Linked DNA regions of Homo sapiens: region 1 is linked to region 2. The links come from fine-mapping of genetic effects on gene expression. A gene starts in region 2. The other region holds a variant in brackets. All regions are shown on one strand. Distances are between the middles of the regions.

Evidence for each region. PIP is the estimated chance that this variant, and not a neighbour inherited with it, causes the effect. A credible set is the group of variants that fine-mapping cannot tell apart.
Region 1: its variant is the best candidate, but not a certain one, in a credible set for the expression of PSMD4 in whole blood (INTERVAL, PIP 0.61).

What each region holds. Positions count from the first base shown.
Region 1 is chr1:150,985,362-150,990,881 of GRCh38, forward strand. It overlaps ANXA9 (annexin A9), which reads left to right. Exons shown (of 14, transcript NM_003568.3): 8 at 975-1,054; 9 at 1,241-1,300; 10 at 2,511-2,595; 11 at 2,730-2,825; 12 at 2,922-2,980. Among named protein-coding and RNA genes, the nearest start is that of ANXA9, 5.8 kb to the left of the region's middle. The variant G/A (reference allele first, on the strand shown) is at 3,091.
Region 2 is chr1:151,252,235-151,257,234 of GRCh38, forward strand. PSMD4 (proteasome 26S subunit ubiquitin receptor, non-ATPase 4) reads left to right here and starts at 2,500. Exons shown (of 10, transcript NM_002810.4): 1 at 2,500-2,574. The coding sequence starts at 2,549. RefSeq lists an enhancer at 2,392-2,581 and a silencer at 2,622-2,761.

The DNA of each region.
Region 1 (5,520 bases), 270 kb before region 2:
AGCCATGCTGCAGCCTGAGGAAAAGGTGGGAATCTGCCCTCTGAGTCATGGGTGTCACCTTTCATGTCCCTGATGGCTGGCCTTGCTTGGCTACAAGTGTCTCACCCACTAATTTGTGGCTTTTTCCCATCCTCATCTTACCACCCCTTCCCCCCACCCCTACCTCTTTTTCTTGCTTTCCCCAATTTTCCTTTGATGTCTAATCTTGGCCTATGTTCTTCTTTTGAGACAAGGTCTTGCCCTGTAGCCTAGGCTGTGCAGTGATGTCATCATGGCTCACTGCAGCCTTGACCCTTCTGGGCTCAATCAGTCCTCCCACCTCAGCCTCCTAAGTAGCTGGGACTACAGGTGTGCCACCACCATGCCCAGCTAAATTTTGTATTTTTTGTAGAGATGGGGTTTCGCTGTGTTGTCCAGGCTGGTCTCGAACTTCTGGGCTCAAGCCATCTCCTGCCTCAGCCTCTGAAAGTGCTGGGATTACAAGCATGAGCCACCGCCCTGGCCGTGGCCTATGTTCTTAATCCCTCTCCTACCTTCCTTCCTTCTTGCATCTGTTTCCCTTTTCTCTTTCTTTTTCTCCCTTTCCTGCTCTTTTCCTTCCTCATATCCCACCTCTCATATCATTTTTCCTTACCTCCAATGAGGGTGCCAGGTCCTAACCATCTTGTGTTATAATACGGGTTTCCCTAGCTCTTCTTCACTGCCTGGCCCCAACTCTAATAATGGTTGCCTCCTGCCCAGCAGGTTGGTGCTTGGTGATGAAGCCACTGCACACCTCACAACTTAGAGATGTTTTTAGAGTGGCCGTGATGGTACTTGTGCCTTACATCCTGGGAATTAGCAGCCATCAAGCTACTCCAAGCAGGGGCTAGCAGGGCTGGCAGGGTATAGCGGGTCAGGCATTTGGCAGGTCCTGGGGATATCTACACTAGGAAAACTCAGGAGGATTCAGAGAGCTCCTCACCCCACCCCAGATTTCCAGGTGGAGGCTGTGGATGACATCACATCTGAGACCAGTGGCATCTTGCAGGACCTGCTGTTGGCCCTGGCCAAGGTGAGGAGGACTGACCTGCAAGGAAGGGAGTCACGTTCACCAGGCAAGGAGACACGCTGGAGCAGGGAGCATTGCTGTCCTGTAATGGACAAGAGAGGGCTTTAGGGGAGACCAGCCTTCGCTTGTTGGTCTGAAGATAAAAAGGTGCCCTTCAAAGAGCCCTCTAAGAACAGTTTCTCCTCCTAGGGGGGCCGTGACAGCTACTCTGGAATCATTGACTATAATCTGGCAGAACAAGATGTCCAGGTGAGCAGGGGGTTTAGGAGTGTGCACAGCCGCCATGCACATAAGATGCCTTCCTCCACCATATCTTAGAGCCGGTGACCTACGTGCCCATTTTTCCCGCAAACCCATCCCTGCCTTGGAGAGGGAGTTCTCAGTTATGTGGTAGGGGCAGGAGGTGTCAGGTAGCGTCATAGCTGAAGCCTTTTCACTCATCTAGCCTCTGACTCCTGAGCTCATCAACTGACATATTCTCCTCTCATGAGCGTTTGGGGGCAGAAAGCCTCCTCAGACCTTTTGGGGATTATTTAATCCTCGGGTACCAGGATTTTTCCAAATCAGTGAATAGAGCTGTGAGGCTGTAAGGGCAGAGCCCTCTCTTAGCCCTATTTCTTTCTTAAAAAATAAAAAACATAAGATAAAAAAACATAAATAAAAACAACTAGTAGGCCAGGCATGGTGGCTTATACCTGTAATCCCAGCACTTTGGGAGGCTGAAACAAGAGGATCACTTGAGCCCAGGAGTCCAAGACCAGCCTAGGCAACATAGTGAGACTCTATCTCCACAAAATATTTTTAAAAATTAGCTGCACCTGTAGTTCCAGCTAGCTAGGAGGCTGAGGTGGGAGGATCGCTTGAGCCTGGGAAGTTGAGGCTGAGGTAAGCCCTGGTCATGCCACTGCACTCCAGCCTGGGTGACAGAGAGAGACCCCATCTCTCTCGCTCTCTCTCTCTCTCTCTCTCACACACACACACACACACACACGCACACACACAAACCTAGTTTACGGGTTAAAATAAACTTTCTGGCTGGTCGTGGTGGCTCACACCTATAATCCCAACAATTTGGGAGGCCGAGACAGGTGGATCACTTGAGGTCAGGAGTTCGAAACCAGCCTAGCCAACATGGTGAAACCCCGTCTCTACTAAAAATACAAAAATTAGCCAGGCATGATGGTGAGTGCCTGTAATCCCAGCTACTCAGGAGGCTGAGCCTGGAGAATCACTTGAACCTGGGAGGCAGAGGTTGTGGTGAGCTGGGATCACACCATTGCACTCCAGCCTGGGTGACAGAATGAGAGTCCTTCTCAAAAAAAAAAAAAAAAATCCTTTTCCACCCTCAATCCCATTTCCATCATGATGATGATAGATTCTGGAACGTCATACCCATGGCTCCCTAGGCCCCAACCAATGATCCTGATTGACTCCTCCCTGACTCATTCCTCCCTCCTAGGCACTGCAGCGGGCAGAAGGACCTAGCAGAGAGGAAACATGGGTCCCAGTCTTCACCCAGCGAAATCCTGAACACCTCATCCGAGGTACACACAAGCCTTCTTGTCCCCCTAGCTTGCTCTAATGATCAGTTTGGGCTGAGGAAGGTGGGGAGGGCCCATCCTTTCCAGAGATAATTAATCCCCCATCCATCTTTCTAACTGCCTCCTACACACACAAGTGTTTGATCAGTACCAGCGGAGCACTGGGCAAGAGCTGGAGGAGGCTGTCCAGAACCGTTTCCATGGAGATGCTCAGGTGGCTCTGCTCGGCCTAGGTAGGGGCCTGCTCAGGATTTGTGAAGTAAGTCTCTCTTGGGATGGGAGATTGTGGTCCTAGTTGTGAACCTCCATCCTTCCATCTTTGTTTCCAGCTTCGGTGATCAAGAACACACCGCTGTACTTTGCTGACAAACTTCATCAAGCCCTCCAGGTGAGAGGGGCACTCCTTTCCCTCCCCAGAACAGAAACTGGGGAGGAGAGAGGAAGTCTCAGCTTGCTGCTTATGTAACCATCCTATATACACCGTCTAAACCTCAAGCC[G/A]CTCTCCTTCCCAGGGCTTACACACCAGGGCTTACACAGGGGTGGAGGAATGAGCTGTGGTGAGAACTAACTTAGTTGGCTCCCAGGGGCCCTGAAACTAACATTTTGGCCTTGTTAATGTCTAGGTGGCCAAATAGAGATATGAATCTGCTCTGTAAGACAGTGCCTTGTGCAGGCTTAGTTGTTGCCAGAGTGATGGTGATAACACTAGCAAGAATAATGACAAGGGCTGGCATTTTGCAGGTGCTGATTGTGTGCCACAGCCTATCCTGAGCAGGGCACACATATTTCAATTAATCCTCACAACCATATCCATCCGTATCTTATAGATGAAAAAACTGAAGCCCAGAGAAGTTAAGTACCTTGCTTGAGGTCACGTAGCTAGTAAGTTATACAGTCTCCCTACACAACACTTCACGATGTAAGATATTGACCATCCTTGTCAGCTATACGATAAGTGCTCTTAGCACCCAAGGCCCCCTTTCTCCACGCTGGTCAGATTTTGTTCCACATTATCCATACTTTTTTTTTTTTTTTTGAGATGGAGTTTCACTCTTGTTGCCCAGGCTGGAGGCTGGAGTGCAGTGGCACAATCTCGGCTCATGGCAACCTCCGCCTCCTGGATTCAAGCGATTTTCCTGCCTCAGCCTCCCAAATAGCTGGGATTACAGGCGCCCGCCACCACATTATCCTAATTTTTTGTATTTTTAGCAGATGCGGTTTCACCATGTTGGTCAGGCTGGTCTCAAACTCCTGACCTCAGGTCATCAACCTGTCTCGGCCTCCCGAAGTGCTAGGATTACAGGCGTGAGCCACTGCGCCCAGCCCATATTATCCGTACTTAAACTGCTGACTGTGGCTTGAGTGCTTCCACCAATAGAATCCAGTTATTCTGTTGATTGAATTAGGTCTCCTATTAGTAGAACTGTCCCCCAAAATCTATAAATAAAAAGTTCAGGAAGGGCGCAGTGGCTCACGCCTATAATCCCAGCACTTTGGGAGGCCAAGGTGGATGGATCACTTGAGGTCAGGAGTTCGAGACCAGCCTGGCCAACGTGGTGAAACCCTGTCTCTACTAAAAATACAAAAATTAGCCAGGCATGGTGGCAGGCACCTGTAATTCCAGCTACTTGGGAGTCTGAGGCAGGAGAATTGCTTGAACCTGGGAGGCGGAGGTTGTAGTGAACCAAGATCACGCCACTGCACTCCAGCCTGGGTGACACAGTCAGACTAAAAAAGTAGTTATCATTTTGGCAGATGGAATAGCTTTCTGTAGACTGGTTGAGAAGCCATCATGCCATGTTGATGATTGCCCAAAAGTTAGTAAATATAAGCAATTGTTCTGTCATCTAGAGATTTCTATCTTGACAGTAGATTATTATACTTGCCCAATAAAGCCTGTATGATTATAATGAGTCAACACTAAGATTCATTTGAAGAGTTGTACTTATCTGTCCAAATTCCTGTCATAAATACAAACTATCCCAGCAGTAGATGATTTTGTAGTGTATTTGGATTACAAGACCCACACTCTTGAGTGTAGATAAAAGATTTATCTTAGAAGTAGTAGTCAGGGGCCAAGCATGGTGGCTCACACCTGTAATCCTAGCACTTTGGGAAGCTAAGGTGGGAGGATCGCTTGAGGTCAGGAGTTCAAGACCAACTTAGGCGACATAGCAAGAACTCGTCTCTACAAAAATAAGAAGAAAATTTGCCAGGCATGGTGGCACCTGCCTCTAGTCCCAACTACTCAGGAGGATGTGGTGGGAGGATTGCTTGAGCCCATGAATTAGAAGTTACAGTGAGCTGTGATTACTCCACTGCACTTCAGCCTGGGTAACAGAGCAAGACCCTGTCTCAAAAAAAGAAAAAAAGAAGTGGTAGTCAGAAAATAACATAGGCCCATTTTTCTGAAAAAAAAAATTTTTTTTTTGAGATAGAGTCTGGCTCTGTTGCCTAGGCTGGAGTGCAGTGGCGTGATCTCAGCTCACTGCAGCCTTCACCTTCTGGGTTCAAGTGATTCTCTGGCCTCTGTGTCTTAAGTAGCTGGGATTACAGGCGTAGGCCACCATATCTGGCTAATTCTGAATTGTTTCTAAAAAGGAAAAACTCGGGCTGGGCGCTGTGGCGCATGCCTGTAATCCCAGGACTTTGGTAGGCTGAGGCGGGTGGATTATTTGAGGCCAGGAGTTCAAGACCAGCCTGGCCAACATGGTGAAACCCCATCTCTACTAAAAATACAAAAATTAGCCAGGGGGTAGTGGTGAGCGCCTGTAATCTCAGCTACTTGGGAGGCTGAAGCAGGAGAATCTCGAGCCTGGGAAGCAGAGGTTGCGGTCAGCCGAGGTGACGCCACTGCGCTCCAGTCTGGGTGACAAAGTGAGACCTGCCTCAAAAAAAATAAATAAACAGGCCAGGCGCGGTGGCTCA
Region 2 (5,000 bases):
GCCTCAGCCTCCAGAGTAGCTGGGACTATAGGCACCCACCACAATGCCCGGCTAATTTTTGTATCTTTAGTAGGATGGGATTTCACCATGTTGGCCAAGATGTTCTCGATCTCCTGAACTTATGATCCGTCCGCCTCGGCCTCCCAAAGTGCTGAGATTTCCCAGCCTTGGTTTTCTTTTTTAGTCTTGCTCTGTTACCCAGAGCAATCTCAGCTCACTCTAGCCTTGACTTTCTGGGCTCAGGCGACTTTCCTACCTCAGTCTCTCAAGTAGCTGGGACTACAGGCTGGCACCATCACAATCAGCTAATTTTTGTATTTTTTTGTAGCGACGGGGGTATCCAGGCTGGTCTCGGACTCCCAACCTCAAGTGATCTGCCCACCTCGGCCTCTCAGTGCTGGGATTACAGGCGTGAGCCACCGTGCCCAGCTGGCCTTCTTTTTTTCATTATGGGAATTTCCAAACCAAAAGTAGAGTAGTATGGTGAACCACTATGTACACATAACCCAGCCTCAATAATTATCAACATAAATAAGACCAGCGTGGCCGGGTGCAGTGGCTCAAGCCTGTAATCCCAGTTTTCGGAGGCTGAGATGGGAGGCCAGGAGTTAGAGGTTGCAGTGAGCTATGTATGATTGCACCACTGCTGCACTCCAGCCCAGTGAGACCTTGTCTCTTTTGTTTTACTTTGAGACCCTGTCTCAAAAAACAAAACTATTTGTTTCTTCCAGAGGATTAAGTTAAATCCCAAACTTCATATACTTTTTTTATCTATGAATACAACATATAACCCTTAATAAAGCCTACTTTTATAAGGGTGATAACTTTAACACTATTATCATGCCTAAAAAAATTGCTTAATATCAAATATCCAGCTGATGTGATGGCTCACGCCTGTAATCCCAACACTTTGAGACTTTTTTTTTTTCAGAGATGGGGTCTGGCTATGTTGCCTACGCTGGTCTCGAACTCATGCGCTCAAGCCATCCTCCCACATCAAAAAATTAAAAACAAATTAGCTGGGCTTGGTGGCATGCACCTATAGCCCCAGCTACTCAGGAGGCTGAGGCAGGAGGATGGCTTGAACCCGGGAGGTGGAGATTGCAGTGAGCCGAGATCAGGCCACTGCACTCCAATCTGGGCAACAGAGCGACACCCTGTCTCAAACAATAAAACTTTGTAGAGACGGAGTCTGGCTGTGTTGTCCAGGCTGGTCTCAGACTCCTAGCCTGAGTTGATCCTCCTGCCTGGGCCTCCCAAAACGCTGGGATTATAAAACCTAAGCCATTGCATCAGGCCTTGAATGTAATTTTTGATTAACCAAAACGGTTTAGTGGTTTGTTCTTTGGCAGATTAGTTAATATAATTGAGTTGTCAAATCTTTTCCGGGCTCTGTACTGGGCTTAGGGAATTGTAAAGATTAAGACACGTTGCCGGCCAGGTGTGGTGGCTCACGCCTGTAATCCCAGCACTTTGGGAAGCTGAGGTGGGTGGATCATCTGAGGTCAGGAAATCGAGACCAGCCTGGCCAACATGGTGAAACCTCGTCTCTACTAAAAATACAAAATTAGCCGGGCATGGTGGAATGCCCCTGTAGTCCCAGCTACCTGGGAGGCTGAGGCAGGAGAATCCCTGGAACCCAGGAGGTGGAGGTTGCAGTGAGCCGAGATCGAGCCACTGCACTCTAGCCTGGGTGAAAGAGCGAGACTCCTCCGTCTCAAAAAAAAAAAAAAAAAAAAAAAAAAAAAAAAAAAAAAAGGCACGTTGCCCACCCTTAGTTAAACGAGGGAGGAGATAAATATACAAATAAATTCAATTGAAGGGTATAAGGGCTTGTTGAATTAAAATTCTACAGGGAACTGAGGGCTGTAGAAAGTCATTAGCGATCCCGACACTTTTTTTTTTCTTTTTTTGAGACGGAGTCTCACTCTGTCCCCCAGGCTGGAGTGCAGTGGCGCGATCTCGGCTCACTGCAATCTCTGCCTCCCGGGTTCAAGTAATTCTCCTGCCTCAGCCTCCCGAGTAGCGGGGATTACAGGCGTGCGCCACCATGCCCGGCTAATTTTTTGTATTTTTAGTAGAGACAGGGTTTCACCATGCTGGCCAGGCTGGTCTCGAACTCCTGACCTCGTGATCCGCCCGCCTTGGCCTCCCAAAGTGCTGGGCTAACAGGCGTGAGCCACCGCGCTCGGCCGATCCCGACACTTTTTTAAAATGCCGAAGCCGGAATCGACACAGCACTTTCAAAGGTTCCTCCATAGCTCCCCTGAGATCCGGCCAGCGGGAAACCCCAACTGAGAACTGCAATGGCAGGGAAAGTGGAGGCTAGATCCTGTTTTTTGTGTTACCGCGATTCCCTTCAACTACCCTCAAGACGCCTACAAATTTGTTTGGCGGCACCTACAACTCCCAGAACGCAACGTGGGGGACGGAGGCGGAAGCAGCTGGCCAAGCCGAGGTCTGTGATTGGTGAAGAGCGACGGGCCAATTGGAGGAGTTGTTGTTAGGCCGTCCCGGAGACCCGGTCGGGAGGGAGGAAGGTGGCAAGATGGTGTTGGAAAGCACTATGGTGTGGTGAGGAGCTACTTCGGGGCAGGAGGGGCAGAGCTGGGTTCCGGGCGCGTGTAGCGCCAAGGCAGGGAGGGCCTGGGGTGGGGGCCAGGGGCTCATGGGCGAGAGGCGGCCCTGGCCCCGGAGGTAAGGAGCCCGCTGGACTCCCTGAGTCATCCCGGGGCCCTGGAGTGGCGGATAGTCCCGGGTTACCACTGTTACCCCCAGGGGGACGGTCATTGACTGGTCATTCCTGCTTCCTTTCTCTGTTCTAGCGCCGTCTTCTCTAGAGCAGCCCGGGTCTGTCTTTAGCTACAGTTCTGCTTTTCGGACTCATCGTAATAGTTTTCTGCCCTCCTTTCTTTGCAAAATAACGTCTATTAGGAAAATAGATTATTAATCCCTTCCTCTCCCCATTCCCTCGTCTCTAACTTCATTACCTTTCCCTGTATCATCTTCAAAGGTACCATTTACAGATTGCTTTTTATGTATCAGTCATTTTGTTTATCTCACTTATACCTCACAACCACACCTTAAGGTAAATTATCTCTCCATTTTACGGTTCAGGATACCGAGTCTCAGCGATTTTAAGTGATTTGTCCAAAATCATACAGCTAGTTAAGTGGTGGAGTCAAGATTTAAACCCACGGCTGTCTGACACAAAGGCTTTATCCGGTGAGGTAGCTCTCTTTGTCAGTTTCAGGCTTGGGCTGAGTACCTATTACGAGTCACATTAGAAGAGGAGGACATAAATTTTTGCAGGGTTTCAAGAGTTCCTTCTAAGTGTAATCACTGAATGTAATACAGAATAGTTGACGAACACAAATCACCGATTGGGTGAAACAGGCACCTATGAGATTTCTTCTTTTTATTTTCTCGGGGGAGCATAGCATTGCCAGATAACATACAGGATGCCCAGTGAAATTTGAGTTTCAGATAAACGATGAATAATTTTTTTTTGAGACGGTCTCGCTCTGTCTCCCGGACTGGAGTGCAGTGGCCCAGTCTGGCTCACTGCAGCCTCCGCCTCCCTGGTTCAAGTGATTCCCAGTGATTGAACTAATTTACACTTGCACCAACGATAGAACAGTGTTCTCTTTTCTCGCAACCTTGCCAGCATCTGTTATTTTTTTAGTTTTTAGTAATAGCCATTCTGACTGGTGTTAGGTGGTATCTCGTTGTGGTTTTGATTTATTTGCATTTCTCTAATGATCAGTGATATTGAGGTTTTTTTAATAGGCTTGTTGGCTGTATGTATATCGTCTTTTGAAAAGTGTCTGGCTGGGGCGTGGCTCAGGCCTGTAATCCCAGCACTTTGGAAGGCTGAAGTGGGTGTATCACCTGAGGTCAGGAGTTACTGACCAGCCTGGCCAACATGGTGAAACCCCATCTCTACTAAAAATACAAAAATTAGCCAGGCGTGGTGGTGGACGCCTGTAGTCCCAGCTACTCCAGAGGCTGAGGTGGGAGAATCGTTTGAACCCCGGAGGTGGAGGTTGCAGTGAGCCGAGATGGCGCCACTGCACTCTAGCCTGGGCGACAGAGTGAGACTCCCTCTCAAAAAAAAAAAAATAATAATAAAATAAATAAATAAATAAATAAATAAATAAAAATAAAGTGTCTGATGTCTGTTCATGTCCTTTGCCCACTTTTTTTTTTTTTTTTCTCTTTGAGAAGGAGTTTTGCTCTTGTTGCCCAGGTTGGAGTACAGTGGCGCCATCTCAGCTCACTGCAACCTCCGCCTCCCTGGTTCAAGTGATTCTCCTGCCTCAGCCTCCTGAGTAACTGGGATTACAGGTGCCCGCCACCACGCCCAGCTTTTTTGTATTTTTGGTAGAGACGGGGTTTCATCATGTTGGCCAGGCTAGTCTCAAACTGCTGAGCTCAGGTGATCCACCCGCCTCAGCCTCCCAAAGTGCAGGGATTACAGGCGTTGAGCCACTGTGCCCGGCTCCTTTGCCCACTTTTTTTTTTTTTCGCTCTTATTGCCCAGGCTGGAGTGCAATGACACAATCTCAGCTCCCCGCAACCTTCGGCTCACCGCAACCTCCGCCTCCCGTGTTCAAGCGATTCTCCTGCCTCAGCCTCCTTAGTAGCTGGGATTACAGGCATGCGCCACCACGCCCAGCTAATTTTGTGTTTTTAGTAGAGACCAGGTTTCTCCATGTTGGTCAGGCTGGTCTCGAACTCCCACCCTCAGGTGATCCGCCCGCCTCAGCCTCCCAAAGTGCTGGCATTATAGGCGTGAGCCACTGTGCCCGGCCGGTCTTCCAGGATTTTTATAGTTTTGGGTTTTACCTTGTCTTTAATCCATCTTCAGTTAATTTTTGTGTATGGTATAAGAAAGGAGTCCAGCTTCAATCTTCTGCATATGGCTAGCCTAGCCAGTATCCCCAGTTATTGAATAGGGACTCTTTTTCCTCACTGCTTGTTTTGTCAGCTTTGTCAAA